Linked DNA regions of Homo sapiens: all the other regions are linked to region 2. The links come from fine-mapping of genetic effects on gene expression. A gene starts in region 2. Each other region holds a variant in brackets. All regions are shown on one strand. Distances are between the middles of the regions.

Region 1 (9,806 bases), 66 kb before region 2:
CGGCCAAGCGCCACACCAGCCAGCCCGAGGGAGGCCAGCCCCGGGAAGCGGCAGCAGAGGGCGGGAGGGAGACAGGCCACGGTGCAGTGCTGTGGTGTGAGGCCCGAGCCAGCGGTCCCTGAGATAGGGCAGGTACACGGGCCAGCTAAGTCCTTTTGGTTCAGGCGGGTTGAAGTTGGGTCTCTCCCACTAGCGGTAGAGCCCTACCGACGCGTGTGCAATAGAGGCAGCCCGCAGGACCCGGCCAGGACTGGGAAGGTGGAGCGGATGTGCTGGGGGAAGGAAGCCCACCAGAGGCAGCAGGCCCTCCCGGCCACAGATGGGTCCTACTGACCGGGCTCCGGATACTCAGGTCTGGGCTTAATGGGCTCAAGGGTTCCCGTCGGGCACTGGAAAACTACATGGAGGTTAAAGGTCCTGTTCTGCTCCTTCTGGCTCTGGGCCTCAGACAAGGTGGAAACACCCGGTAGCCACCTTGTCAGGAAAACGGGGACAATCATTGCCTCCCCGAGAGGCTGATGCGTTGAGGGCATGGCAGGGCAGTGCTGGTACACTCTGAGACCCCCTGGCCTGCCCTCCGCCTCACCTTGTCCAGCACCGGCTTGTCCAGCTGCTGCTGCTCGATGCACAGGTGGCAGACCCGGGCCAGGAGCTCCCGGGGCTCGATGAAGAGGCGAGAGCTCAGCAGGAAGGTGAAGATGTAGGCTTTCTGGGGGACACACGAGAAAGAGGGCACAGGCTCAGGAGGGCACCAGGAGGGGCATGCTTCCCAGCTGGCCCTGTACCCTGGCCCAAGGTCACGCCCAACCCTGATGCCCCCCGTGCGTGGTGGAGGAGAGCCCACTCTCCTGCCCGCTGGGTGGATCACCCACCTCGGGGTAGTAGTCGGCTGTGGGCACCAGGTGCTGGATCAGTGTTTCCAGGGAGGCTGAGGATGGCGCTCCATCCAGGAGGGGCTGCCCAGCCTGTTCGCCATCTGTGGGCTCGGTGGGGGGTGGGCTGAGGCTGCCTGGGGTGACCATGTCGGAGGCACTCAGCGTCTGTGGCATGTCTGCCTGCAATGGCAAGGAGCAGTGAGGACCTGAGTGGGGGCACACCTGAGTTGGGTGCACCTGAGTGGGAGCTGCTGGTCCCGGGGCTCCTGGCTGGGCAGGCTCCCCCCACAGCCACTTTGTGCCAGCTTGAGTCCAGTGGTCACTTCCTGGGAGTATTGTCAGGGCCCCTTCCTCACAGCACAGCCTTCATTCTCCGTCTTCTCATGGCCTCTCAACTCTCCTGCAGGACCCATCTCTTGTCTACTCCTCTTGCCCCACTCAGGGGCAGGCCTCTTCTAGATTCTTCCCCCCGGCACCCCTCCACGAAGGTTGTTTTTCACAAGCCTGGATAATCAGCCTAATCCCCCTGCTTCTGGCCACAAAGATTGGTTCAGGGATTGGCCCCATCCAAATTAGGGGGGCTCAGCTGCAATCCCAGAACTTATGTGGCACTTGGAGGCTTTCTTTCCCCCTGGAGTCCTTGAGCTGGTGGAATGTATGCCCGACGCTACTGGGGCCATTGTGGCAGGAAAGTGGGCACATTCCTGAGCACAGTGTCGCTGTGCTGAGCACAGAAGCTGCTCCATGGACTTCTCCATCACATGTGCCTCTTTAAGTTGGGGTTCTCTCAGGTACAGTCAAAACTGCTGTCCTCCTTAACCTGGCATTCTGGGCTCTTTGTGATTTGGACTAGCTGACCTGTCCATCCTCACCGCCTATCACACCCCATTGCTCTTGGCACCAGCCACGTTCTCTCCTCCAAATGCCTTCTCCAACTCTGAACCACTGCACATGCCGTTCCCTCCTGCAGGAAGGCTCTCCCACCATCTTCACTCCCCTATCCCTCCAGGTATGGCTGAAATGCCTCGTCCTCGGTGAAGCCTTCCCTGCGTCCCACCAAGGCTGCACCTGACCTCTGGTGGGCATCAGCAGATTCTGCTTGTCAGCCTTGTTGGGTGCCTGGGTGCTGCTGTCAGTACCTGGCACAGGGAAAGGCCAGCTGCAGCCGTTACAGTGTCTTCTCTACCCAAACCTCCAGGCAGAGGCCAGAGCACATCCTCTGTGACCCTGCTCTGAGTGACGGGCCTGGCAGCAGCAGGTGTCCATACCCACCTGCAGGGAGCCCATGCTTACTCTCAGAAGCTCTTCCACTTACCCCTCTAGGCCAGTCTTCCTTGAAAGCCCAGGAGCCCTCACAGTGACGCATCCTGGCTAAACCTGTGACTGTTTAGACAGCCCCTACATTCTTGATCGTGGAGTCCTGCCAGCTCACTGCAGGGTCTTCTATGGACTCTGAGGCTCCCCTGCTCATGCCGTCCTTGCTGCCCCGATGGCAAACCCTGACCCTGGCCTATTTCTCCTTTGCAGCACTCTGAGTGACCCTGCCCTGGGAG[T/C]AGAGACAGAGGGACGTGGTGGGTCAGAGCTGACACTGGGGATCAGAGGGAGCCCCTCAGAGGGCTGTCCCGTGGCCATGTGGGTGTGGGAGGTGCTGGGACTGGGTTACAGCATGGGAAGGGCTCAGGCATTGGTGTGGACAGCAGCCCAGACAGTCCTGGCCATGGTGACAGACAGCTTATTTTCGCCTCCCTGACAATGCTGTAAGTGTTCAATTTTCAGCCAATGAAACCGTAAAATTTCACAAAATCACCTCCTGTCTGTCCCAGGGGGAGGCGGCTGAGCAGGTGGGCATGCAGGAAGCTGCACATGCTCAGTGGGAGGGGGACAGCTGCGGGATGGGCCGGCTGCAGGGTGCACGCTGCTCTGCCTCCTGCCCAGGGCCCGGCAGCTCAGCCTGATTCCACAAGATAGAAAACCTGTGAGCCTGGGAGGTCCGTTGTCTCCTGCTGGACACCTGGCACCTGTTCACCCTGCAACGCTGGGCCTGCCCCAGATCCCAGCCCCATTTTCTTGACAAGCCAGTGGCAAGGGTGGAGGTGGCTCTGGAAGCCTCTGCAGGATGGTGGGAGGTGCCATGCAGGGGCCTTTCTGAAGGAGGCCAGGAGGCTGCCACTTTAAAGAGACAGCCAGGAGGCTCCCAGGGGACCTGGGGCCTGGCCTGGACCCAGGTGCTGGGCACATGGGAGGTGGGAGCAGTGTTCAGATCCAGCTCTGCTCTGGAGCGACTAGCTCTCGCTGGAGCCAGGGGTGGTGGTGGTTGCTGAACTATTGTGACCCACAGGGATGCCCAGAGAGGGGCTGGGCTGCCAGTGGTCCTCCGACCTCCAATCACCCATCGTATCACCAGCTGGGTCCAGGTCTGGGTCTCAATGAATGGGCTTATCCTTGTGCCGCAGCCTTCAGTTTTTTCCTGTGGTTGCCAAGGGTCATCCATTCATGCGTGTATGCATGGGGTGACTCCTGGCTCCATTCCAGGCAATGGGGACAAAGCCCGACCTCAGGGAGCTGGTAAGGGAGGCAGAGCTGTGCAGAGACTGCCCCACGGGAGGCGTGCTGTGAGGGAAAGGGGGTGACCACTCTCTGTGCTCACTGCGGTGGATGTCCTGGCCCCTAAGAGAAGGTGAGGTCAGAGCTGCTGCTACCAGCGGGCTCCCCCACCACTCCCACCCCTCCCTGCAGGCGTGCTGGTGCAGACAGGCCAGGTGCCCACCTCTGGCCTCTGCATGAGGACAGCTGGGGACACAGAGGACACTGCTGCTCCTCCATCCGCCAGGGACAGCCAGCTCCTCCTCCCTCCAGCAGGAGCTCCAGCCTGCCTGGAATGGGCTGGGTGAGGGTGGCTGCACTGAGGGCTGACGGCAGGATGCAATCGGCAGAGAGACATGCCAGACAGACTGACCAGCATGTGCAGAGGCTCGGCGGAGCGGGGGGCAACGTGGTGTGATCATGGGAGTATATGCTTAGGTGTCAGGAGCCAGGCAGTGGCTCCTGGAAGTGTAGTGGGGAGTGACTGAGTTGGGGTCAGGGAGTGTGCAGAGTGATCAGAGCATCACGTTCCTTGTGTGCAAAAACAGCCATGTAACGAGGGTCCCTCGCTCCACCTGTAAGTGACGCTTTTATTAGTTTCTAGTCTTTCTGTAGCTTCTTTACGCAAAGACAAGGACATGTAAACACATAACCCCTTTTCTGTCTGTATTACACAAAAAGGTAGCATACTGTCCACACTCCCCCGCACTGGGCTTTCTTCACTAACAATGCGTTTTGAGGACCTTTCCATGGCAGGGCAGGGCTGCCTCATTCATTTTTATAAAAATTGCCTCACAATATTCCATTGTTTGGATGTCCACAAATAATTTTTAAAAAGAAATGAGGCAGCAGCCCAAGCGTCCATCAGTGACGAATGGATGGAGAAAACGCCTCTCCACACAGTGGGGCAGGAGTCAGCCTCAGAGAGGAAGGAGGTTCTGAGCCTGCGGCAACACGGATGACCTTGAGGACGTCATGCTAAGTGAAATGAGCCTGACACAGAAGCACAAACACTGAGTGACCCCACTTGTGGAGGCACCTACAGTCATCACGTTCACAGAGGCAGACGGTGGGACGGCGAGTGCCAGGGGCTGGGGGTGGGACAGGAGAACAGAGTGTCACTTGTGAAGAAGAAAAGATTTCTGGAGAGGGATGGAGGTGACAGTTCCACCACGATATGAAGGTACTTAATGTCACTGAACTGTCACTTAAAAAGGGTTAAAATGATACATTTTATGTTATGTGTATTTTATCACACTTTTTTTTTTTTTTTTTTAAACAGAGTCTCACCAGGCTGGAGTGTAGTGGCACGATCTTTGCTCACTGCAGTCTCCACCTCCCAGGTTCAAGGGATTCTCGTGCCTCAGCCTCCCAAGTAGCTGGGATTACAGGTGCCCACCACCACACTCAGCTAATTTTTGTATTTTTGGTAGAGACGGGGTTTCACCATGTTAGCCAGGATGGTCTCGATCTCCTGACCTCATATCACACTTTTTAAAAAAGGCAGTGATGATGGGACAATTGTTTATTGTTACAATATCTCTCAGAAGTCTTGAAATCACTGTTAAGTCTCCCATCTGTGTTTTGTGCACGTGGCCTGAATGATGCACGTGACAAAGGGGCTGGGAGTCTTGGGGGCTGCATAGATGGGCTGTCAGCATGAGGGGCTCAGCATGGATGGGGAACGTTCTGCTCGTACCCTGTAGAGAGACCTTTCCATTTCTCCCTCTGTCTGCCTCGTTGGGACGTGGGGCTCGGTGTGTGTGAACTAGATATATGCACGGTGTGGCTGCTCCCGTGGGGTTCCGCTTCCTACCCATGAAATGAATGAGACTTAATTAAATGCCCAGTGCTGGCAGGCATGCAAGGGCAGCCCCTTACACACCACTGCGGGGAGGGGTGGTATGCGTTGTCATGGTCCCTTTAATTGTACCAAGATTTGGCTCAATGTACCAAGAGCGTTATGTTCTATAGCGTCCTTTCATCCTAATCAAAGCCTTGGAAATGTATCCTGAGAAAATAAAGGGGACAAGCTGTGGAAAGAAAGGCCCTTGCTTCAGCATTAAATCCCAGCAGCGAACACTCTCGAGCAGCACAGATGGCAAACAAAGGGAGCATGGACGGGGAGGTGCACAGACGCACTGGCGGAGTGGCTGTGGCCGCTGCAGTGATGGTTCTGAACACACGGTCATAACACAGAAAACAGTGTGGCACAAGGAGGGGAAAACAGCAGGAGAGAAAGGTGCGGATGGTGGGAATGACATTCACGTGGATGAAGACTGCAGTGAGGCCCTGAGAAATGAGTCGCTGCTGTGCCCTCCTCGCACCCCATCGTTTTAGAGTCATTCGTCCAAGCTGAAGTCCACTCATCAGAGGATGGCTCTGGGAACACCTGAACTGATTCCAGGCCTGGAATGGTGAGGCTGGGGGCACGTGCCCCCGCTGTGGCAAGGGCACTGACAGGACACTGAGAGGAAATGCCTGGCTCTGGCACACAGCCCCAAGTGGCTGAGGCATGAGCTTCTGCCTCGGTTTCCCTCTCCATGGCTCCTGTCCCACTGCCTGGCCCCCAGCCCCTCAGGCATCTCTCCTTGTGTGTGTCTCCAGGCCCTGCACCTGGAGGTCCTGGGGCTCCTGCAGCAGTTCAAGAGACAGCAGGCGAGGATTGTGTGGGGTCAGGTCTGCAGAGAGACAGGCAGACAGGGGACAGGATCCCACGTGCCACCCTGCAGGGGGGCACTCTGATGCCTGCCAGCACCCAGCTGGGCATCCTTCCTTCTGGAGGCCTCACTGACAGGCTCAGGGCCCACCCTGCTCCAGGCCGCTGGCGCTGGCAAAGTTTCTGGGACAGCATGGCCCCAGCCCAACCCCTCTATGGGAGACGGGAAATGTGTGCAGGGACAGGGGCACCATGTGGTGCGTTTATAAGGAAGGCCAGCCCTGAAGATGGATGTGCATTCTCCTGCTATTCCAGTGGGTGCTGGAAAGAGGTAATGGTCACCTGCCCCCAGCCAGTTGAAAACGTGCCCAAGGGCCCTGCTGTTCCTCCTCAGCGTGGGGCTGGCAGAAGGTGGGCCGGCTGTACCAGTGAAAACCCACAAGCTCTGCTGTGCTCTGGGAGCTGGCGTGCTCAGACCTTCCTGGTGTAAAAGTCATCCAGGACATCCAGGACTCCTGACTTACGTTTCATATTGTGATTGTAAGGGTGGCAATTAATTCTATTTTTTTAAAAAGCCACTGATGGGGCCACACAGTGAGTTAAAGCACAGTTAGAAATGACATCTGTAGTGCCAAGGTGGTCAGTTTACAGACCCTGTTCCTGCTGGGGTCCCCACATCCCTCAGCATGGGTGGCTGGCATTAAACATCTGCAAAATGGAAATCCATCGAACTTGCAGAAGAAAAGCAGGTGGCTGGTCAGAGCGCGTCCTGGGGGCTGGAGGGATGTTCTCCCTGGGCCAGGTGTGGCAGAAGGGACAGAGGTAAAGAAGGCTCCCGAAGGCCCCTGTGAGGACCACGCGCGTGTCTCAGGAAGACACCTGTGAGCTCTGAGAAGAGGGAGCAGTCCCCCTCTTCAGGTTATGGAGACTGGTGCACGAAGTACCTCGCACAGTGCCTGCTGTGGAGAAAGGACCCCCAAGGCCAGCACTCGCCACGGGGAGCTCGCCACCTGCTAGGGCCAGACCACAACACAGGCAGCAACTGCTGTTAACCAAGGCTCTGTGTGTGCCAAAAAGACTTGCCAACTGCACCGCCATGGTTCCCCATGGCTTCTGTGCTGGCTGCAGCTGGGGCGACCCTCTACCTGCCCATCCAGCCCTGCAGCTGAAACCACGTCCCAACAGCTGCTGGAAATGGTCCCACTGCTTTAGCCTCAAAGGCTGTGGTGGGTCCACGGCCCCAAATCAGAGCCCTTTCTGCCCTTGCTTGAATATGTGCAGAATTTTACACATTTACACATTCTCAAGAGTTTGAGACCAGCCTGGGCAACACAGTGAGACCCTCATCTCTAGAAAAAGTTTTTAAAAATTAGGTTGACGTAATGTCACACACCTGTAGTCCGAGCTACTTGGGAGGCTGAGATGGGAGGATTGCTTGAGCCCAGGAATTCAAGGCTGCAGTGAGCTGTGACTGCACCACTGCACTCCAGCCTGGGTGACAGAGCAAGACCCTGCCTCTACCAAAAAAATAAAAATTAAAAAAATATACTTAACATAAATTTACCGTGTAAAGTTCAGTGGCATTAAGTACATTCACACTGTTGCACAAGCATCACCACCGTCCGTCCACAGAAGTTTTTCATCATCAATTGAAACCCTGTACCCAGTAAACACTAACTCCCCAATTTCTCCTCCTCTCCTTCCCCAGCCCCTGGTAACCACAGTTCTACATTCTATGTATTTTTACCATTCTGGGTACCTTATATAAGTGGAATCATAAAACATTTGTCCTTCAGTGACTGGCGTATTTCATTCATCTTTGTCAAGGTGCACCACTGTTGTAACATGCGTCAGAATTTCCTTCCTTTTTAAGGCTGAATACTGTTCCACTGCATGCACATACCATATTTTGTTCATCTATTCATCTGTCAGTGGGCAGTGGGGGTTGTTTCCCCCTTTACCATACTGTTTTCCACAGCAGCTGCACCATTTTATTTATTTTTATTTTAATTTTTATTTTGAGACGGTCTCACTCTGTCACCCAGGCTGGAGTGCCGTGGTGCAATCTCAGCTCACTGCAACCTCTGCCTCCCGGGTTCAAGCGATTCTCCTGCCTCAGCCTCTCAAGAAGCTGGGATTACAGGCATGTGCCACCACCGTGTCCGGCTAATTTTTGTTTTAGTAGAGATGGGGTTTCACCATGTTGGCCAGGCTGGTCTTAAACTCCTGACCTTAGGTGATCTGCCCGCCTCAGCCTCCCAAAGTGCTGGGATTACAGGCGTGAGCCACCGTGCCCGGCCCGCTGCACCATTTAAAATTACCAACAGCAATGTAAAGGGTTCCAATTTCTCCACATCCTTGACAATGCTTGTTGTTTTCTGCTTTTTTGATAATGGCCATCCTAATGGGTGGGAAGTGGTATCTCATTGTGGTTTGGATTTGCATTTCCCTAAATATCAGTGATCTTGAGCATCTTTTCATTTGCCATTTGTATATATTCTTTAGAAAAATGCCTGTTCAAGACTTTTCCCCACTTTTTTCAAGCAAAGAAAATTTAATTCATAGAATTGGTTCCGTGACAGGATGTAATTACCCCACCCCTGAGATTTAAGGAACAAAAGAGAAGCCGTGGCGTTTCAAGACCCAGATCAGAGGAGAAGCCCCACAGAACTGGAGCTCACGCTTCGAGCATGGCTGCTGCTGGGACCTCTGCAGGGGCATGAGGCAGCTAGCCCCAAGAGTCCTCTTTTACCCATTTTTGAATTGAGTTGTTTGGGATTTGTTTGTTTTTGAGTTTTAGGAGTTTGTTAGATAGTCTGGATATCAATCCCTTATTAGCTATGTGATTTGTAAATATCTTCTCCTATTCGGTAGGTTATCTTTTTACTTTGTTGATAGTGTCCTTTGAGGCACAAATGTTTTCCATTTTGATGAAGTCCAATTCGTCTATTTTTGTCTTTTGTTGCCTGTGTCTTTGGTATCATATCCAAAAAGTCACTGCCCAATCCAATATCATGAAGCTTTCCCCCAATGTTTTTTTGAGATGGAGTCTGGCTCTGTCACCCAGGCTGGAGTGCAGTGGCACAATCTTGACTCACTGCAACCTCTGCCTCCCAGGTTCAAGTGATTCTCCTGTCTCAGCCTCATGAATAGCTGGGACTACAGGTGCATGCCACCACACCCGGCTCATTTTGTATTTTGTATTTTGGTACTTTTAACACGGTTTCACCATGTTGCGCAGGCTGGTTTCCAACTCCTGAGCTCAAGTGATCCGTTCAAAGTGTTGGGATTACAGGCATGAGCCACTGTGCTTGGCCAGCTATGTGTTTTTCATATGTGACTTTTATTATGTTGAGGTAGTTTCCTTCTATTCCAGTTTTTGGAGTACTTTTTTTTTTTGTCATGAAAGGGCATTGAATTTTGTTTAATGCTTTTTTCTTCATCAATTGAAATGATCATGTGTTTTTTCCTTCATCATGTTAATCTATTGTATTACATTGATTGATTTTCGTATGTTGAACCATCTTTGCATTCCAGGAATAAACCTCCCTTGGTTGTGGTGTATAATTTTCTTTAATATGCTGCTGAACTTGGTTTGCTAGTATTTTGTTGAGGATGTTTGCATCATAAGGGATATTGGTCTGTAGTTTACTTCTTGTAGTGCTTCTGTCTGGCTTTGGTATCAAGGT
Region 2 (9,808 bases):
AAGCAGTCATGCTGGGGAAGCCCATGTGACAAAGACCTGTGGGTAGTCCCGAGGAACTGGGGGTGACCCTAACAAGTTGAGGTTGGCCTCCAGCCAACATCCAGCCAAAATTTTAAGCTCTAAATATAACTACAAAGAACTAAATACTGCCAACAACCACATGAGTGGAGAAGCAAATCCTTCCCTAGCTGAGTCTCTACATGAGAACCTAGTGCTGGCCACCAGCAGTACTCAGCTAAGCCATGCCCAGGCTCTTGATTCACAGAAATGATGAGCTAATAAGCCATGCGTTGCTTTAAGCCACTAGGTCAATGATAACTTAGTACACAGCAATAGATAACTAATACAATGATATTGAAACATACTACAGGCTGGGCGCGGTGGCTCACGCCTGTAATCCCAGCACTTTGGGAAGCCAAGGTGGGAGGATCACTTGAGGCCAGGAGTTCGAGACCAGCCTGGCCAACATGATGAAACCCCATCTCTACCAAAAATATAACTTAACCGGGCATGGTGGTGCACGCCTGTAATCCCAGCCACTTGGGAGGCTGAGGCAGGAGAGTCGCTTGAACCTGGGAGGCAGAGGTTGGAGTGAGCCGAGATCATGCCACTGCACTCTAGCCTGGGCGACAGAGTGAGACTCTGTCTCAAAAAACAAACAAACAAACAACAACAACAACAACAACAAAGTGAAATCTGGGGGAAGACAAAAGTTATACATAGCTTTTTGACTGTGTGGGGGTCAGCATCCCTAACCTTCTCATTGTTCAAGGGCCAACTGTAATTGCTAAACTATATTCCATCGTACGGATATATATCTTGTTTATTTATTCACCAGTTGATGAACAACTGCGTTGTCTCTACTTTTCTGGCCATTATAAGCAATGCTGTTATGAGCATTTGTGTACAAGTCTTTGTGTGGACATTTCATTGTTTTCATTTCTCTTAGATTCCTGGGAGTGGGACTGTTGGGTCATATGGTATTTTTATGTTTAAATTTTAAAGAAACTGCCAAACTATTTTCTACATCATGTCCAAGTGGGACTTATTTCAGAAATGCAAAGATGGCCTAGTGTTAATATTCATACGTTTTGTGTCTGTTTACCTCAGCCTAGTCCCAGACCTGATATTGGGAAATCCATCACATGACTCATTATGCTACTAGTAATCAGGAGAAATATCAGATCATTATCTACATACATGGCTCTAACAAAGGTCAACACCAATCCTGATTTTTAAAACTGCCAATAAAATAGGAGTCAATGGATATTCCTCTATCTATCTATCTATCTATCTATCTATCTATCTATCTATCTCATCTATCTATCTCTTCCCATCCTAAAGTCAGCATCTTTCTTAATAGGGGAAGTATTAGAGGCCTTTTTACTAAGGTCAGGAACAAGGTAAGGAGGCCCACCACATCCAATATTTAATACTGAATTGGAGGTATTCAGCCAATTTAATTAGATAAAAGAAAGCATAAAAATCAGTAGAGAAGCAGTAAAGCTATTTGAATTTGTAGATGACAGAATGACTAACAGAATCAAAGATATGACTAACAACAGGCCGGTAATGGTGGCTCATGCCTGTAATCCCAGCACTTTGGGAGGCTGAGATGGCAGATCATCTGAAGTCAGGAGTTCGAGATCAGCCTGGCCAAGATGGCAAAACCCCGTCTCTACTAAAAATACAAAAATTAGCCTGACGTGGTGGCAGGCACCTGTAATCTTAGCTACCTGGGAAGCTAAGGCACGAGAATCACTTGAACCTGGAAGGTGGAGGTTGTGGTGAGCAGAGATCACGCTACTGCATTCCAGCCTGGGTGACAGAGCGAGACTCCGTCTCAAAATAAATAAATAAATAAATAAAAACAAAAAAAAAGACTAACAATAAAACTAACAATAAAAATTCAGGTAAGACAGAAAGATATAAAATAACATACACGAAACAGTAGCCAATTCAAAGATATAATTGAAGAAAAAACCATTTATAGTAGCAACACACAAGATAAAAATACTCATGAATAAACTTCATAAGAAATAGGAAAAACATATATGAGGAAAATTTCAAAACACTCCTAGAAGTAGTCTTGACAAACAGAAAGACATCTCTCAGTTTTGGATAAGATAACTCAACTTCATAAAGATGCCAATTATCCTAAAGTTAATATACAAGCCTAATATAAACTTAATACGCTCTCCTTCCCCGCCCGAACAGCAGCAACGTGCTGCAACAGCCAGGAAATCCTTGCAGTAAAAAGCGATGGAAGGAACTTGCCCACCACATGTTAAAACACAACAAGGAGAGTTGAGCCCAATCTCTCTCCTCTATTGCAATGGTCTTGAATAAAGTCCTCTTTGCCATTATTATAATATTATTATTATTATTATTATTATTATTTTGAGACAGAGTCTCACTCTGTTGCCCAGGCTGGAGTGCAGGGGTACAATCTCAGCTCAGCTCACTGCAAAATCTGCCTCCCAGGTTCAGGCGATTCTCATGCCTCAGCCTCCCAAGTAGCTGGGATTACAGGCATGTGCCACCATTCCCGGGTAATTTTTTATATATTTTGGTAGAGACAAGGTTTCACCATGTTGGCCAGGCTGGTTTCAAACTCCTGACCTCAAGTGATCTGCCTGCCTCAGCCTTCCCAAGTGCTGGGATTACAGGCGTGAGCCACTGTGCCAGGCCCTCCTTGCCTTTAAATATATTTTTTCTCTCTCTCTCTCTTTCACCAGTATGTGAACAGATGGAACAGACAGACCTGTGAGACACACTAGAAAGCCCAGAAACAGGCCCAGGGCTTGGATTTTTAGTGTATGAGAAAGGTGCATTTCAGATCACTGGAGGAAAGATGACCTTTTAAATAAATGGCTTTGGGACAGAGTGCCAGACACTTAGAAAAAGATTAAATTGGATGCAGAGACTAAGTACACAACTAAACAAATATTAGAAAACACAGATGATTGCTTTATAATTGGGCTTTTCATAGTTAGAAAAGTCTAAGTATGATTCCAAATCTATGTGAAAAGATGTCCAATTTCATTTATAATAATAGAAATATAAATTTAAAATACACTGAAATACTGTTTCTCAGCTCTCAAACCAGCGAGGCTGTGGGGAAACAGAAGACACTGTGATACATCGGTGGTGGGAATGCAAAACGGTGCTACCTCTTGACAAGGAATTTGGGACTAGCTAACAAAATAAATCCACATTCACTCCTACTTCTAGAAGTGTGTTCTAAATATACACCTTTGCAAACATTAACAATATAGGTGCAAAGTTATCCATTACTCCATTATTTTAAATTTAAAAAGACTTGGAAAAAAACAAAATTGTTCATCCAGAGGACATAATTTGAATAAACAATAATAGTACAGCCACAGAACGAAATACTATGTGAGTGTAAAAAAGAATGAGCCAGGTCTCCATGAACTGGTAAGAAGTTACTTTCAGGACATACTTCTAACTGAAGAAAAACCAGGAGCTGTACGGCTAACTTTTGTGATAATGCTTAAATGACTTGTTTTGCAGAAAGAGACACAGGAAGGATAAACCAGAAAATATTTTAAATGGCTCCCAATGGTGTGGGAACAAGGAAGAAGATGCAGGGGTGGGACTGAGACCTTTAAGGATAGCTTTTTAATAGTTCTGACCTTTAAACCATGTGTTTTACGTATTCAAAAAATAAAATTACATCCTAAAGTCTAAAGGAAAAAAAGCTCCAAATTGAATGCAAGTAGAAACACACGAAGCTAACAGTGTGTCCGACTGATAACGTCACCACACAGCACTCTGCCTGCACACCCGTGGAAATCCCGATGCTGACCTAGCAGGTTTTGGTTGGCTTCGGTGTGGATGCAGTCATTCTGAAACTCTTTCGGGGTGCATTGTGGAGCTAAGTAAATGATGAAATATATTCATGTTTGGGGGAATAAGGTTCTCACTGCAGGAGAAAGGGAAAGGAAATATTAATTTTTAGTAAAAAAGGGGCCTTGGCTTGGTCCACTGACAAGGCCTAGAGGCGGCGAGTGCACGCCCCACACTAAGCCCGGGTCCCACGCAAGGAACCAAGGCCCCTTGGACAAATGGCTGACTCTGGATCTGGGTCCAGGTACAAGTGAGAGCTGGAACCACCTCAGAGACTGGCGGGGACATGGCAGGAGGGTGCAGACCCCGGCCTGAAAAGGGCCAGGTCCCGGGCAGGGCCCCACCTCTACCTGGTGGCCTGCGGGCTCCCCCTCGCCAGTCCCGCCCTGGGCTCCGCAGCCCGTCCCTCTCTCGCCTGCCCTCCCTCTCCTGCCCCGGCAGTGCGCCCACCCGCCGCCACGGGCAGCCTTTCGACGCCCAACCTGCAAACCGCCTGGGGGCTGCCCAGGACGTCCAGACCCTGTAGCGTCTCAGCTCCAGCTCCGCCCCCTCCTGCCCTCAGGGATCTCACCCGCGCTGTTCCCCCGGGCTACCCGTCCATCACAGGCTGGGCTCCCCGCTCAGGACAGCCTCCCTGACCAGACGAAGGCTCCGCCGCGCCCTGGTCTCCCTCTGCCCCAGTCACCCTACTGCATGTTCTTCCCAGCACGCATAAGATCTTGGCCATGTCCTTGCTTTTGCCTTTGATTTCTTGTTTGGTGTCCCCTCCCACACCAGCTAGTGAGCACTTACGGGGGCAGGCAGCAGGCGGCACACAGTAGGCGCTCAATGAATGTGGCCAGTGAGTGGACAACCCTAGCCCCCCTCCACCGGTCGCCTGCACAGTGGCTGCACTATGGCTGTTGGAGCCAGTCTTACCAGAGGTGGGACCCCAGCGTTGCCACTCCATGGTCCCGCCCCTCTCTAAACCTCAGTTACTCCACCTGCCTGGCAGGCAGAGCTTCCCAGGACTCTTCTCAGGCTCCCGGGGCTCAGAACTTCTGTCTCTCCCACAGCCCCAGGAGGCAGGAGATACGGGCCCGGAAGAGCTCCACCAGCACCCCAACTTCCCAGCTCTGTCTTTCCCACAGTTTCCCACGCCCACGCTGAGCATGGGGCGGCGTCGCCAGCACCCTTCCCCAAGTCCCCCCAAGCATCGCTTTCCCAATCTAAATACAATGAGTGGACCAGGTGGTCCCTTGATGCCGTCCGCTGTCACTGCGTGAGGGACACACCCAGGACTCCCAGCAGACCCCACTGTTCTCGCAGGCCCTCTGATAGTGGCGCTGGTCCTTTCCTCAAATCCGATCCCATCCTCAAGGGTGACAGCACCCTCTTCCCCCAGGCGCAAGGCCCTTTCCCTTCTGCACGTGCACCGGCAGGTCTGCTTTCCCGTCCCCATTTCATAGACGGGGAAACTGAGGTCCGGTGCGGGTGGAGGCTTTGGTCTAGGCTGGCTCTTCCTGCCACTCTAGCGGCTGAAAGAAGCTTGCTCCTCGCGCCCAGCAGGGGCTGGCGGCGCGCGGCAGAGCTGGGTCTCCCGCCAGGTGGCCGGGGGTGTGCCCTCAGGGTACCCTACCCGCTACCCCCGCGCCTCCAGTCCCGGCGGCCGCGCGGACCCCGCCCCTGCTGACCCCGGCGCACGCTCCCGCGCCGCGCGCAGCCTCCCGCCTCCCGCCGACCCCGCCGCGCCGCCGGCAGCCCTCCCCAGCCCCCGCGAGCCCGCGCCCTTGCCCGCACCGCCAGGTGTCCCTCGGCCGCGCACCACTCACCGGCTCCCGGCGCGCCGGAACTCCGGGCCCGGCCCATGGGCAGCTCCCGGTGCGAGCCTCGGCGCCGCGGACCGGGGCGCCGCCCGCCGCCGCCGCCGCCGCCGCCGCCGCCGCCGCCGCCGCCCGACCGCCCGGCTCCCAGCGCAGCCCGCACGAGCGCCTGGCGGCGGCCCCGGAGCAACGCGGCGCTGCGCCCCCTCGTGGCACTCAGGCAGCGCGGAGCGGGCGGGGCGCGGGGGTGGAGCTGCGGGAGCCCGCGGGCGGCGCTGCACACCAGGGCCCTCCGTGCCCCGGCCGCGGAGCCAAGCGTCCCGCCCTGCGTTCAGGCCTCCGCGGCGGCTGGCCCCCCGCGCCAGGACCACCCGCTCGGGCCGTCAGACGCTGCCCTCCCGCGCGCGGACCCTGGCGGACTCTGCGCCCCAGCTGCCCCAGCCTACACCTCACCTGGTGGGCCTCTGGCGCCCCAAAACCCAGTTCACCCTCTCTCCTCAAGACTGGGCCCGGCCCGGTTCTCTGGACTGGCCACCTAGGTTGTCTGTGTCCCCCAATGGGACATCCCTGGGTGGACACCCCCCCTCCCCAACCTTCTCGGCGCTCTCCCGTGGCCCCCAGGGAGGGTGGACACCACTTTGAAGACACCGGGGTTCTGGGAGGATGGCGATGCATGATTTCACTTTTAGAAAGGGAGAGGGGCTCTAACAGGATCCAGTGGCCTCCTTGAACTGGGTCTTCAGTGAAAAGTTCCCTGGTTGGTCCCAGCATAGAGGTCAGGACACCTGTCCTCCTGTGTCCGCAGTTTGTCCCTTCCGCTGGGTTCCTGGTCTGGCTGACTTCAAGAATGAGCCAGGGACCTTGGCAGTGAGTGTTACAGCTCTTAAAGGTGGTGCGACGGTGAAACCCTGTCTGTACTAAAAATACAAAAAAATTAGCCAGGTTTGGTGGTGGGCGCTTGTGGTCCCAGCTATTCGGGAGGCTGAGGCAGGAGAAGGGCGTGAACCCGGGGAGGTGGAGCTTGCAGTGAGCAGAGATTGCACCACTGCACTGTAGCCTGGGCGACAGAGCAAGACTCCATCTCAAAAAAAAAAAAAAAGAAAAGAAAAGAAAAAGGTGGTGCAGACCCAAAGAGTGCGTAGCAGCAAAATGTCTTGTGAAGAGCAAGAGAACAAAGCTTCCACAGCAGGGAAAAAGACCACAGCCGGTCGCCGCTGTTGCTGGCTGGCGAGGGGTGGGCGGGCAGCTTTTATTCCCTTATTTGTCCCCACCCATGTCCTGCTGATTGGTCCGTTTCACGGAGTGCTGATTGGTGCGTTTTTACAGAGTGCTGATTGGTGCATTTACAATCCTCTAGCTAGCCAGAAAAGTTCTCCAAGTCCCCACCCGACACGGAAGTTCCAGCTGCCTTCACCTCACTCTGCTTTAGTCAGGACCTGCCTGATGAGATGTGGCCCAAAACTCAACCCAACCAGCTTGAGCAAAAAGCTGGTTTGTGGATCATAAAAAGCCAAGGTTTACTGCTTAGAGGAATGGCTAGATCCAGGTACTTAACCTATGTGCATAGAAACTGGCCTCCCCTATCTCCCAGTCTTTCTGTGGCAGAATGGCCCTGGGTTGACACCTCAGAGAGGGCACAGCTGCCTGATAGTTGCAAGGACAGCCTGCGGCTGCCACACACAGGCTCCGAGGAGCTGAGCTCAGGCCATTTCCAAAGACCTAGGGAGCAGGAATAGCAGGCCTGGGTGTCGTCTCACTAGAGCTGAGGCAGAGTTAGTCCTGTGTCAGCTTTGAGGATGGAGTAAGGTGCTGTTCCAAGCTTCCGTGAAGGCTGTTCCTGGAAGAATGGACAGGTTAAGAACAACAGTCCAGCCCATTTCTTGAACAGTTAGGGAAACTGAGTCCTGGAGAGAGCAGGCAGCTGCCTAGGGCATACAGATGTATTAGAATGAATGTGGGCCAGGTAGCTAGGCAGGGAGACAGCAGGGCTGGGGCCAGGGCCAGGGCCAGAGGCTGGCCCTAGGGAGGGTGACATCTGAGACCAAGGGTCAGGTGTGGGGAAAGGGAGGAGGAACAGAGGCAGGCACTTGGTCAGGGGTGAGCAGTGTGCTCCCAGCAGATAGACAGATGCGCCTCAGGGTGCAGGCACTGGGCCCTCCCTGCATCTTCTCCGATTATCACCCTATGCCCCTAAGCCTCAGGTCCAGTCCCAGGGTGTCGCCTGGAGGAAGCCAGGAGTCTAGGAGGAGAGGCCGCAAGAGGCACCTCAGAAGAGCTGACCCACTCAGCTGTGTTGTTCTGGGGTCTGGGCAGCACTGAGCGGCCCTCCTAACCAAGTGCAGGTCAGGGTGGTGAGGCCAGTCTTTCCCCAGCTCACCCTTGCTCTGTGAGCAAAGGCTGCTGTCCCCTGATAAAGAACTTTCTCCAGCAAGTGGCTGGGGCCACTGAAGCATGATTGCCCTGCTGGGAGCAGGGTAGGGGATGCTTGGATGAGGCCAGGGCAACTGGAACATGGGTGTGGACTAGCTCATGGCCACAGCTCCGTGTCCCACAGGGGTGAGGGTGGCAGAGCTTTGCTCTGGGACAAAGGAGAAGACCGTGTCCCCTGAGGTCTCCTGCGTCCTCTCCCTGCCAGACCCATCGCTGCCGAGAGTTGGGCCTGTGCTGAGGAAGACGCATGAGCTGCAGTCGCGGCTCATGCAACACCAGGAAGGTTTTTGAGCCTCGCGGCCAGCGTGGAGTTCTGCCCTGAGCCTCCAGCTTTGTGGGACCCTGGCTGCAGGTGCCACCACTGGGCCCTGGGAGGTATCTGCTCCCGCCCCCTCATAGCCCACCCAGGAGTGCCCTCTAGCAAGGAACCTCTCCTGCCCAGCCCCTACCCTGCCCACCCAACTTCTCACTCCAGAACGTGCCCCGGGGCTAATCCCTGAGTGAGGGCATTGGGACAGAGGGTGAGCCATCCCTAGGGCCGTCAACTCAGTCTCCCCTCACCCCACCACTGCCCTGAGACATCTATTGGGTGGACACTTACCTAGGGCCTATGTGTGCCGGGCACCATGCTGGGTGCTGGGAATATAGCAGAGAGCCCGACATGGGGTTCCTGCCCCCTGGAACTCATGGTTTAGAGAAGGGAGGCTGAAAACTAACCATACAAACAAAAGAGTAAAAACAATCATTTCGGAGAGCGCCGAGCGCCATGAAGGAAGCCATACTGGGGAGGTGGTTGAGTGCGGTGGGGCTGCTTTAGAAGGGAGGGCCCAGGAAGGGCCTCTCCAGGCACATCAGACAAGGCACTGGCCATACAGGGTCTGGGAAAAGCACCGTGGGCAGAGAGAATAGCAAGGGCGAGGCCCTGTGGCTGGCATGGACTTTGCATTGTTTTTGCAAAAAAGAGGCTGGAGCCAAGGTGGAAGGGAACAGGGCCAGGCAGGGTGTCCAGGTGGGCAAGGAGCTGGATCCTGTCCTCTGGGTGTCGACACAGGGGCAGGTGTGGCTGCAGCTCTGCCAGCAGCACCCCCAGCAGGAGGGGGTGGTGCTGTCCCCAGATGTAGGGGTCCTGACACCCATGAGGCCTTTCCCAGCACCTTCAGCCCCTGCGTAGCTGCCCCTGGCCTGGATGGCACATCCTGCACACGTGTGACTCTGGGAGACCTGAGTGTGCCCCACCAACGCAGCACTGGGTTAGTGGGGCTGGAGTCCTTGTTCACTGGGTGTGGCCACGAGGGACAGGCAGCAGGCCCACGAGGAGTTGGCAGGCAGGGGAGAGCTGATGAGTACAGACCTGGGCAGGGGGCAGGGAATGGGGCAGACCTGAGGGCTGTTTCTGGGGGAGAAGCCACAGGACTGGATGATGGGAGATAGGAGAATGTGTGAGAAGTGACAGCGATGGCAGGGGTCCTGGCAGGATGAATGGGGTACCTTTCCCAGGAGGGCGAGGAGCCCCTTCACAGCAGACAGCACCTGCTGGGACTGTGGGGCCAGGGGCATGTGGAGGAGGTCTGGAGGCAGCGGGGCCTGCGGGTGCCTGCCTGGTGCGGGTCCTCAGGGAGGAAGGAAGGACAGCACGGGCTCCAGCAGCTGCAGGCGCTTACGCAGAGCAGGAGCCTGTGAGGCCCTGCAGTACGTCTGCCCGG
Region 3 (9,808 bases), 81 kb before region 2:
TAAAAGATGAAACTTAACCTAAATGTGTTTGTTAAAACTGCCAGGGTAGGCCAAGCGCAGTGGCTCACGCCTGTAATCGCAACACTTTGGGAGGCCAAGGTGGGTGGATCACCTGAGGTCAGGAGTTCAGGAACAGCCTGGTCAACATGATGAAACTCTGTCTCTACTAAATATACAAAAATTAGCTGGATGTGGTGGTGGGTGCCTGTAATCCCAGCTACTCAGGAGGCTGAGGCAGGAGAATCGCTTGAACCCGGGAGGCAGAGGTTGCAGTGAGCCGAGATTGTGCCACCGCACTCCAGCCTGGGAAACAAGAGCGAAACTTCATCTAAAAAAAAAAAAAAAAACTAAAACAAAAACAAAAAACAAAAAAAAATCCCCAAAAAACTGCCAGGGTAACTTTCAATAAATAGAGGGGAAGATGGAATGGGGGACCTATTCATCCAAAGGAAGCAAAGGAAGGAGGAAAAAGAAACAGATAAGGAAGATAACTATGTGGTACAACAGAAGATAGCAAGAACAAATTCTTATGGACTAGTGATTACAACACTGTAATTAACAAATGCAGCTGCTTGCCACTTTCAAGAGATACACTCCAAACACAAGGATATAAGTAAAAAAAAGAGAAAAATATATCTGATAAATATTACGTAACTATATTAACATTGAACAAAATAGACTTTAAGGCAACAAAAAAGACCCTGAGGCAAAAAGCTGTAGGAGAAATTGCATAATGATAAAAGGGTCAGCTCATCAGGGATATGTCACAAGTCTTAACTTGATTGCAGCTAGTAACATAGGTTCAATATATGGAGGCAAAAACAATCAGAAAGCTGAAGTTCTTTATCAGGAGAAGTTGAGTCCTACAGTCACATGGAAGATTTTAACACACATGACGGTAACTAGTAGCTTAGGGAGATTGAAAAAGAAAAACAAAACGCAACCCAGGATGAATATGAATCTCAGCAACACAATTTGAAGCAATAAACAAACACGGAAACTTGAACTTAACTACTTGAGAATACGCATTCTTTTCAAATGTTCAGAAACTTAAAAAATTTTTTGAAATAATCTATGTTTCAAAGATGAAATCATAATGGAATTAGAATGATAATGAAAATGTTAAAAAATAAAACTTGGAGGCTGTAAATAAAAATTTATGTAAAAAGAAATCAACCATCTTTCATGCTTTTATTAGAAAAGAAGGATAAAAACAAGCTGAACATCCAACATAAGAAACTAGAAAAAGAATAACAGTATAAATCCAAAGAAAGTAGATGGAAGGAAATAATAAAGAGTAGAGAAGAAAGAAATGAAATAGTAAAAAAAACTGCAATCTACAGAATCAACAAAGTCAAAAGATCTTTATTTGAAAACATTAATAAAATTGATGAACCTCGGATAAGATTGATAAAGAAACAAAGAGAGGTGTAAATAATCAAAATACTAGAGATGGATCAATGTAGATGTGAAGAAATTAAAAAGATACCTAGAGAATATTACAAATAATTGTATGTCTATAAATTTGGAAACTTAGGGGAAATGGCCAAATTCCTAGGAAAATATAAATTACAAAACAGACTAAAGAAGAAACATAAAACCTAAATAGTCCTAAAACCATTAAATTAATAACAAGAATAAACAACGAAACAAACAAACAAACAAGAATAACCTTGAATCAGTACACGAAAGTCATCCCTCAAAGAAAATACTCGGGAGGCTGAGGCAGGAGAATGGCATGAACCCAGGAGGCAGAGCTCGCAGTGAGCCGAGATAGCGCCACTGCACTCCAGCCTGGGCGACAGAGCGAGACTCTGTCTCAAAAAAAAAAAAAAGAAAAAGAAAATACCAAGCCTAGATGGTTCCACTGGCTAATTCTACAAAATGCTCCAAGAACAAGTAATTCCAGTCTTTCAGGAAGAATAGAGATCAGGGTAAGAGAAACAAAGACTACACAAGAACAGTATCAGAAGGGGAAATAACAGTTCAGTCTCACTGACGATTATAGTTGCAGAAATCCTAAAACATTAGCAAACCAAATCCAGGGAAGTGTGAAAAAGATAATGATTTCATTTATCCCAGTTTCGTTTATCTCAGAAATGCAAAGTTGGTTCAACATTGATTAAAAAAACAGCCTGGCGCAGTGGCTCACGCCTGTAATCCCAGCACTTTGGGAGGCCGAGGAGGGTGGATCACTTGAGGTCGGGAGTTCGGGAACAGCCTGACCAACATGGTGAAATCCTATCTCTACTAAAAATACAAAAATAGCTGAGCTTGGTGGTGGGCACCTGTAATCCTAGCTATTTGGAAGGCTGAGGCAGGAGAATCTCTTGAATCCAGGAGGCGGACGTTGTAGTGAGCGAAGATCGTGCTATTGCACTCCAGCCTGGGCAACAAGTGCAAAACTCCGTCTCAAACAACAACAGCAATAAAAAACTAGGCCAGGTGAGGTGGCTCACACCTGTAATCCCAGCACTTTGGGAAGCCAATGCAAGCAGATCTCTTGAGCTCAGGAGTTCTAGACCAGTCTGGGCAAACATGGAGAAACCCTGTCTCCACAAAAAATACCAAAATTAGCCAGGTATGGAGGCATGTGCCTGTAGTCCCAGCTACTTGGGGGGCTGAGGCAGGAGGATCACTTGAGCCCGGGAGGTTGAGGCTGCAGTGAGCTGTGTTCACATCACTGTACTCCAGCCTGGGAAAAAGAGCAAGACTCTGTCTCAAAAATACCAACAACAACAACAACAAAAAACCCAAAACAAACAAAAGAAACATTTATTTTAAAAACTAATATAAACAATCAGCTAACAGTTTAAAGGAGAAGAGAATATGTGAGTAACAGATCCAGAAAAAATAAATGAAATTTAACAACCATTCATGATGAGAATTCTGAGAAAACTAGGAAGGAACAGGATACTTCCTTAAGCTGATAATAGACATCTCAAGAAATCCTGTAGCAAACATCATACTCTATTGGGACAACACGTTAAAAGCATTCCTTTGAAAATCAGGATAAAATAAGGATGCCAGCTATCAATACTTCTATTTGACATTGTACCAGAGGTGCAAGTTAGCACAATAAGTTAGTCAGGCCGGGCGTGGTGGTTCATGCCTGTAATCCCAGCACTTTGGGAGTCCAAGGCGGGTGGATCACCTGAGGTCGGGAGTTCGAGACCAGCCTGACCAACATGGAGAACCCTTGTCTCTACTAAAAATACAAAATTAGCCAGGCGTGGTGGCGCATGCCTGTAATCCCAGCTACTCGGGAGGCTGAGGCAGGAGAATCGCTTGAACCCGGGAGGTGGAGGTTGCAATGAGCCGAGATCGCACCACTGCACTCCAGCCTGGGTGACAAAAGTGAGTGAGACTCCATCTCAAAAAAAAAAAGCTAATCTTAATTGCTAATATAAATATTGATAAATATAATCCATATAACCAAAAGTTAATTGGGGTCCTTAATAATTTTTAAGAGTATAAAGGGATCCTGAGCCTTTTGAGAACGGACACCCTACAGAAAGTGTGCACTCGTGTATACCAGCGGGTGTAAGAATGTCCACTGTGGGAATATTTATAACAGCAAAAAGCTGGACACACAAATGTTCATCTACAGTAGGGGGATAAAACAAATGTCATGTGTCGTCTTGATGTATTTCACAATAAAAAAGTAATATTTGGAAATGGCCCCAAACCAAACAAAAAATCTTACAAGAATCTCGGCCGGGCGCGGTAGCTCACGCCTGTAATCCCAGCACTTTGGGAGGCCGAGGCGGGCAGATCACAAGGTCAGGAGATCGAGACCATCATGGCTTACACGGTGAAACCCTGTCTCTACTAAAAATACAAAAAATTAGCCGGGTGTTGTGGTGGGCGCCTGTAGTCCCAGCTATTGGGGAGGCTGAGGCAGGAGAACGGTGTGAACCCGGGAGGCGGAGCTTGCAGTGAGCGGAGACCGCGCCCCTGCACTCCAGCCTGGGCGACAGAGTGAGATCCGTCTCAAAAAAAGAAAAAAAATCTCCCTCCCGTTCCTGCCTCCCAGCACCACAGTTGTTCCGAATTCCCAGAGCAGTCAGCATTCCTAGAGAGTGCTGACGGACACAGGCAACATACATGGTTTTGTGTTACCCTCTTTTTTTGTTACCCAAATGGTCACACACTCTCGCCCCTGCTCTTCCCTCTACCGTTTTCTCTCAGTGCCTGGAGGGATAGGTCTTGGAGGTTGTTCTGTCCACCTTATTCCCTTTCACAGCTGCACACCATTCTAGTTATAGACGTTTCATAATTTGTAATCCAGTCCCCATGGGTGACAAGGCAATCTGCCCCCAGTGTTTGGCCATAATAAACATTGTCTATCCCAAATATCTTCGTCCGTGCATGTTCGTGTACATGGGTGTGTATCTGTGGGATAAATTCGTAGGTATGGAAAATTGGGGTCAAGAAAGTCCATTTAGAGCGTCGATGCTAGTGCCAGTCTCCCCTCCAAAGTGGCTGCGCCAGCTTCACCCCAGCAGCCACGTGGAGTGTGTCTTCCACAATGTGTCTAACCTACTAGGTGATTTTTGCTTATCTGAGAAGTGAAAAATGCAATCTCATAGTTTGTACTTTTATTAGGTGTGAGGGCAGAAGGCACAATGTTTGCAATTCTGGCTTGGATTTAGCCCGTGGGAGGCACCGGCACCCTGCTGGTTGGGCTCCCAGAAGGGCGGGATCGAAATCCGGGTGCGTGGGCTGTGTCCTGAGCACCGGGACCCAGGAGTTCCCTTACCCATCCCGGGCAGCGGGCAGCAACCCGCGCTTCCCCGCGTGGCCGCTGGAGGGCACCGGCGCCCACCGAAACGCACCGGGAAGGCGCACGGGGTCCCGGAGCGCGCCAGGGGGCCCTCCACCCTCCTCCCTGCCCAGGGTCCTGGCCCACCCGAGCAGCGCGGCCCACGGCCTGGTTCCTGGCCCACTCCTCCTCCCTCGCTGGGTGGGTGACCCCCACGTCCCGCACGTCCAGGCTTTCCGGGGACTCGGGACTCGGTTGTCGTGGTGCGCCCCCGAGCTGGAGGGGCGTGGCGGAGTGGGCAGGGCCCCCCGAGCCCACCTGTCCCACTCTGGGCCACTCCAGCGCTCGCCCAGAGAAGGCTCGCGGGCTCCCCGGAGAGCGGCCAGTCACTGGGTGAGGCTCACTTTTGGGACAGCCCGTAAGAGC[C/T]TCCTACCTTTGTGCTGGCCAGAGGGTCCTTGTTCACAAAGGCCTGGACAAACTCCTCAGGCCCGATGTGCCGCAGCCGCTCCTGCAGGGAAGGGTGAAGAGTGGGTAAAAGAGGGAAGGTATGGGGAGGGGGTGTCCACTGGGGGGCCTGCCGTGGTGCCCCAGCCCCTAGTCCTCCTCACAACAGTCACTCTGCAACTGCCCTCCCCACTGGGGCTTGGAGACCCTGTTTTAGGTTGTCACAGAGCTCAGCGCCTTCCCTGGAGGAGGCAGCCCCTCCTTTCCCGGTTCATGGGGGCAGGGAGCAATGCTATGAGGCGTGACGCCCAGGGAAGCCAGGCTCCACGCTGGGTAACTGAAGTGGCCTGCTTCCTCTGCGGGGTGGAGGGGCTGGTGGCTAGGAGCATGGCATCTGGGTCAGAATCAAACCCTGGCTCTGTCCCTTCTGCTGTGTGACTTTGGCAAGTCGCTTCACCTTTCTGGGCCTTAGTTTCCTCTGTGTACAGGGCCTGCCTGGCCAGGTGATGGAGACATGAGCGAGCGCACGGGAGCGCGCTGAAGAGTGCCTGGAGAGCAGGGAGGTCGCCATCAACCCTCAGTCTCAAAGGGAAGAACCCGCCCCAGCCTCCCTCTCCCTGGGGTGGGCCCTTGGCCTCTGCATCCACAAGGGGCCCAGTGCATGCTCGAGGCTAGGCCAGGGCCTCCTTCACAAGCTTGTGGGGCTGCTCTGGGAAGCCAGGGAGGGCACAGTGTATCTGTGTGTGTCCTGCTGAATCCCGGGTGAGGAAGGTGGTTTGGGCCGGCTTACCAGTTCCACGTGGGTCAGCTGCTGGGCCAGTGTGTAGGGGTCGCTGCAGACACCAAGGAGCTCCCTGTGGATGGAGGCTGGTGGCTTGGTCCTGTAGGAGATGGGCTTGTCGGCACCCACCAGACCTTCTGGCCCCTGGCGCAGAGCCGCCAGCTTCTGGTGCAGAGCCTGTAGGAGCTGATGCATCCTCTTCCGGTATGCCTGGTGGGTGGAAAGAAGGGCGCTCAGGACTGAACACTCATCTCTGCATCTCTAACACTGGAACCAGGCAGCCACCTGGGCTCCAAAGGGAGGGTCTTTTCCTCAGGGTCTCTGGAGAAAAGGCCAGGTACCAGCGCAGGGGCCAGGACCTGCCCCTACCCTGAAACAGGACCCAATCCCGGCCAGGGTGGGGCCACCTGGCAAGGGATCTGGGGTGAAGGCTGCAGGGCTTCCCATCTGTGGGTGGGAGCCAAGAGGAGCACACATCAGGGAGGGTGACGGGGGCCGGGGGCAGCTGTCTGGGGCAGTGGGGTAGAGTGGGGTGGGCACGGCCAGGAAGCCAGAGAAAGGGAGAGAGGCGGGAGACATGGCATGGGCCCTGCCCTGGGCAGACGACTGGCATTTGGCTTGGCTTTAATGGGGCCTCTGTTATCTCCCAGGCCCAGCTCGGCCTTCCCCGACCAGCTGTGCTGTTGTCTGGGAGAGAGACAGGAGGTCAGTGGAAGGGCCAGGGCCCACGGGGGACTGACTGTGCCCCCCAGGGCTGGCAGTGGCTGCGCCCCACTCCCCATCTTCCCAGCACTCAGATGAAGCCCTGGGAGGCAGTGTGCCGACCACAGTTTTGGACACAGCCTTCCTTAGAGGGGTCGTTCCTTCCATGGGCAACAGATAGAAGAGTCGGACAACTGCCCGGCTAACCAGTGGGCGCCTTCTGCACCTGGCCCGTGCTCTGAGAGTTAGGCTTAGGGTTAAGCCACGTCCTGTCCCATTCCTCCCATCTGAGGCTCTGCCACAGCTGCCCACTGCCATAGGAGTGCCAGACGACTCCCAACCCCGCCACCAGAGCACAGGGCTCCAGCGTCCTCAGACAGTAGCAGCACCCCAGGGCCCTGGCTGAGGCCCCCCCAGAGCAATCGGAGCCCCCAGACCCTCACAGCCAGCATGCAGATGCCACACCTGCCCACCGCTCACTGCAGGCTCTGTGTGTCTCAAAATCGCATGAAGGAAAACTCCCTGCAATCTCTGAAGTGACCTGATGATGCCGACTGCCACCCTTCGTTATTTCCCGAGGCCTCTGGGAGCAGCAGCCTGTCCAGTCAAGGTGCGCCATCGCTGGGGACCAGGCTCCAGCTCCCACCACTGCCTCTGCCAGTGCCCAGGCCGGCTCCTGGCTGTAGGGGGTTGCATCTCACTCTGAGTTAGACCAAACCCCTTGAGGACATGAGGATGTCTACCTTAACAAACCCAGCCAGTCTGATGGCACTTCCTTGGAAATAGGGGTTTCCGAGGGGAAATAATTAGGTTTTCCTTGACGGTGGGAGAGGAGGTGCCCCTGAGGGGTGGCCACGGCCTTTCATCCCTGTACCCAGCCCATGATGTGGCCCAAAGCAAGAGCCCGTGCGTCTGAGCTGGCTGGTGGGGGTGAGCACTTACTGCGCACCCACTGTGTGCCCAGAGCAGGGCTGGGCTCTCATAGCACAGCGGCGGCAGCACAGACCTTGCAGCCCTGTGGAGCTGTTATTCTAGTGTGGGAGGAAATGACCCCATTGTCTCGACGGTGGTCCTATCAAAGAAGTCGCATAGGGTGACCTGGATGAGTACTGTTGGGAGCAGAGGCCAGGGAAACTAGGCTCCACGCTGGGTAATTGAAGTGGCCTGCTTCCTCTGCGGGGTAGGGGGCAGGGGGCCCATGGAAGGAACGACCCCTCTCAGGAAGGCTGTGTCCAAAACTGTGGTCGGCACACTGCCTCCCAGGGCTTCATCTGAGTGCTGGGAAGATGGGGAGTGGGGCGCAGCCACTGCCAGCCTTGAGGGGCACGGTCAGTCCCCTGTGGGCCCTGGCCCTTCCACGGACCTCCTGTCTCTCTCCCAGGCAAAGCCAGAGTCCCACGAGTGGCTACACCTGCTGTTTCGTCTCCTCACCCCCACTCACTCCTGAATCACTTCACCTGGCTGCCACTCCCATCAGTCAATTCGTTGGGCCCTCCTGTCACCAAAGCCAGTGGCCGTTTCTCAGGCTGCGTCTTCCTTGGCCACCTCCGCCTCAGCCTCCTGGTTGCTCCTGCCTTGGGCTGTCTGCAGGCTTGCCTGTGTTCACTGTCGTGAGATGCTGGGGTTCGGGGTTCTTCCTGCTCTGTCTAGGCCTCTCTTCTCACTCTTACTTAGCTCCTGGCTGTTCTGCTTCACACCTGCAGTCTCCCTCTGATCTCCAGAGTCATATGGGCGGCGGTCCGTCATATGGCCCATGGTCCTCTGTTTGCCCAGCACAGCAAATGGAGGTCGACTCTCCTTGTCCAAAGCTGGTATTCCCAGTGTTGGTGGATAGCGCGTCGGCCACCAGACACACAGGCTTGGTGCCATCCTCGACCCCGCCCTCTCCCTCATGCCCCTCTAGGCCATCACCACCCCTCTCTAGTTCATTTTCTTCTATTTCTGCGCATCCCACCACTGTCTCTGGAGCCCAGGCCACTGTCATCTCTCTGCTGCACTGGCCTTCTTAATGCCCCCAATGCATCCACGCCGGTTTCTCTCCACCCTGCAGCCACAGAGGTCTGTTCAAAATGCAAATCTGATCGCTGCCTCCCTGTTCCTGAAAATGCCTCCATGGCTTGTGCAAAGATAGGAGCCCTGGCGTGACTCTGAGGCTCCGAGGTCAGCTCTGGCCAGGCTTGGTGGCCTCTATGCGCCCTTGCTCCCCTTCTGTGCTCTGGACACAGGTCACTCCTCCGCCCCTTTGACTCCTTCCCACCCTCCCCATGTCCCCACTCCCCATGTCCCCGGCAGGATCTGGACAGCTTTCTCCCTTCTGGCACGTTCTCCTCATCCACTGGACCGAAGCTCAAGTGCTGTTTCCCCAGATGGGCCATTGGTGTTCAGTGCTGTGAGCCCTTCTGCCACACCACTTTTAGAGCTGTCAGGGAAATGATTCTGTTCACGTGCATCTCCTCTCCCTGGACCACAAGCTCCACACAGCCAACTGCGGGCTGCCCTGTGTTCATGAAGGGCCGTAGCTGGCTCACAGGAGGTGTCCACCAGCGTCTGCTGAATGCGTGGATAAACACCGCCTTCACCTGCTGACAGTCAGACGCTCTCTCCAGCAGGGTGTCAGGGCGGACTGCAGGCCCGTGCCAAAATCAAGGCTGCAGGGTGTCTGTGCCTACCCCTTGATAGGGCCACGAGATTGCCTTATTTTTTAAAAACACAGATACTTTAGCAAGATTTGTTACTGTTGAATGAACCAATATTCATTCCAAATAATCATCCTTTCCTGCTTGCTAATTTATTTCGATTTTTCCAGTGATGTTAGGTTCTAGCTTGTTTGTTCTTTCCTGACTCTTCTATGCCCCCTCTGAGTGTGGTTATGCTATCTGCCCTGCTCCTTGGCCTCCTCTCATTTTCTCACTGATTTCTCCACACTCGTGGATAGGAGCTTGGAGATCTCGCTGGTAGATAAGGGCAGGGCCAGAGACCTGAACCACCGAGCATGTCAAGGCATCCCCTCGTCACTATCGTGGGTCCATGTTTATGAAGCACCAGGCCGTGCTGGGGTGGAGCAGCACTTTGCCCCTCCTGCCTCGGGCTGAAGCCCTCTCTCCGCACTGATCATA

Alleles and levels. Alleles are on the strand shown, and positions count from the first base shown. SD is a standard deviation of normalised expression in the study named. Not every link is listed here.
For the expression in tibial nerve of the gene that starts at base 5,868 in region 2, C is the high allele of the variant in region 1 and T is the other (small effect, 0.13 SD a copy in GTEx).

What was found. PIP is the estimated chance that this variant, and not a neighbour inherited with it, causes the effect.
Region 1: its variant is the best candidate, but not a certain one, in a credible set for the expression of RASGEF1C in tibial nerve (GTEx, PIP 0.89).
Region 3: its variant is the best candidate, but not a certain one, in a credible set for the expression of RASGEF1C in thyroid (GTEx, PIP 0.60).

The regions. Positions count from the first base shown.
Region 1 is chr5:180,137,004-180,146,809 of GRCh38, forward strand. RASGEF1C (RasGEF domain family member 1C) reads right to left here. Exons shown (of 14, transcript NM_175062.4): 2 at 873-1,055; 3 at 587-709. The coding sequence starts at 1,049. Among named protein-coding and RNA genes, the nearest start is that of RASGEF1C, 67 kb to the right of the region's middle. RefSeq lists an enhancer at 46-545. The variant T/C (reference allele first, on the strand shown) is at 2,429.
Region 2 is chr5:180,203,344-180,213,151 of GRCh38, forward strand. It overlaps RASGEF1C (RasGEF domain family member 1C), which reads right to left and starts at 5,868. Exons shown (of 14, transcript NM_175062.4): 1 at 5,685-5,868. RefSeq lists an enhancer at 3,867-4,659 and a silencer at 5,784-6,003.
Region 3 is chr5:180,122,411-180,132,218 of GRCh38, forward strand. RASGEF1C (RasGEF domain family member 1C) reads right to left here. Exons shown (of 14, transcript NM_175062.4): 5 at 6,000-6,200; 6 at 5,199-5,273. Among named protein-coding and RNA genes, the nearest start is that of RNF130, 56 kb to the left of the region's middle. RefSeq lists silencers at 4,199-4,493, 4,720-4,769, 4,840-4,909. The variant C/T (reference allele first, on the strand shown) is at 5,192.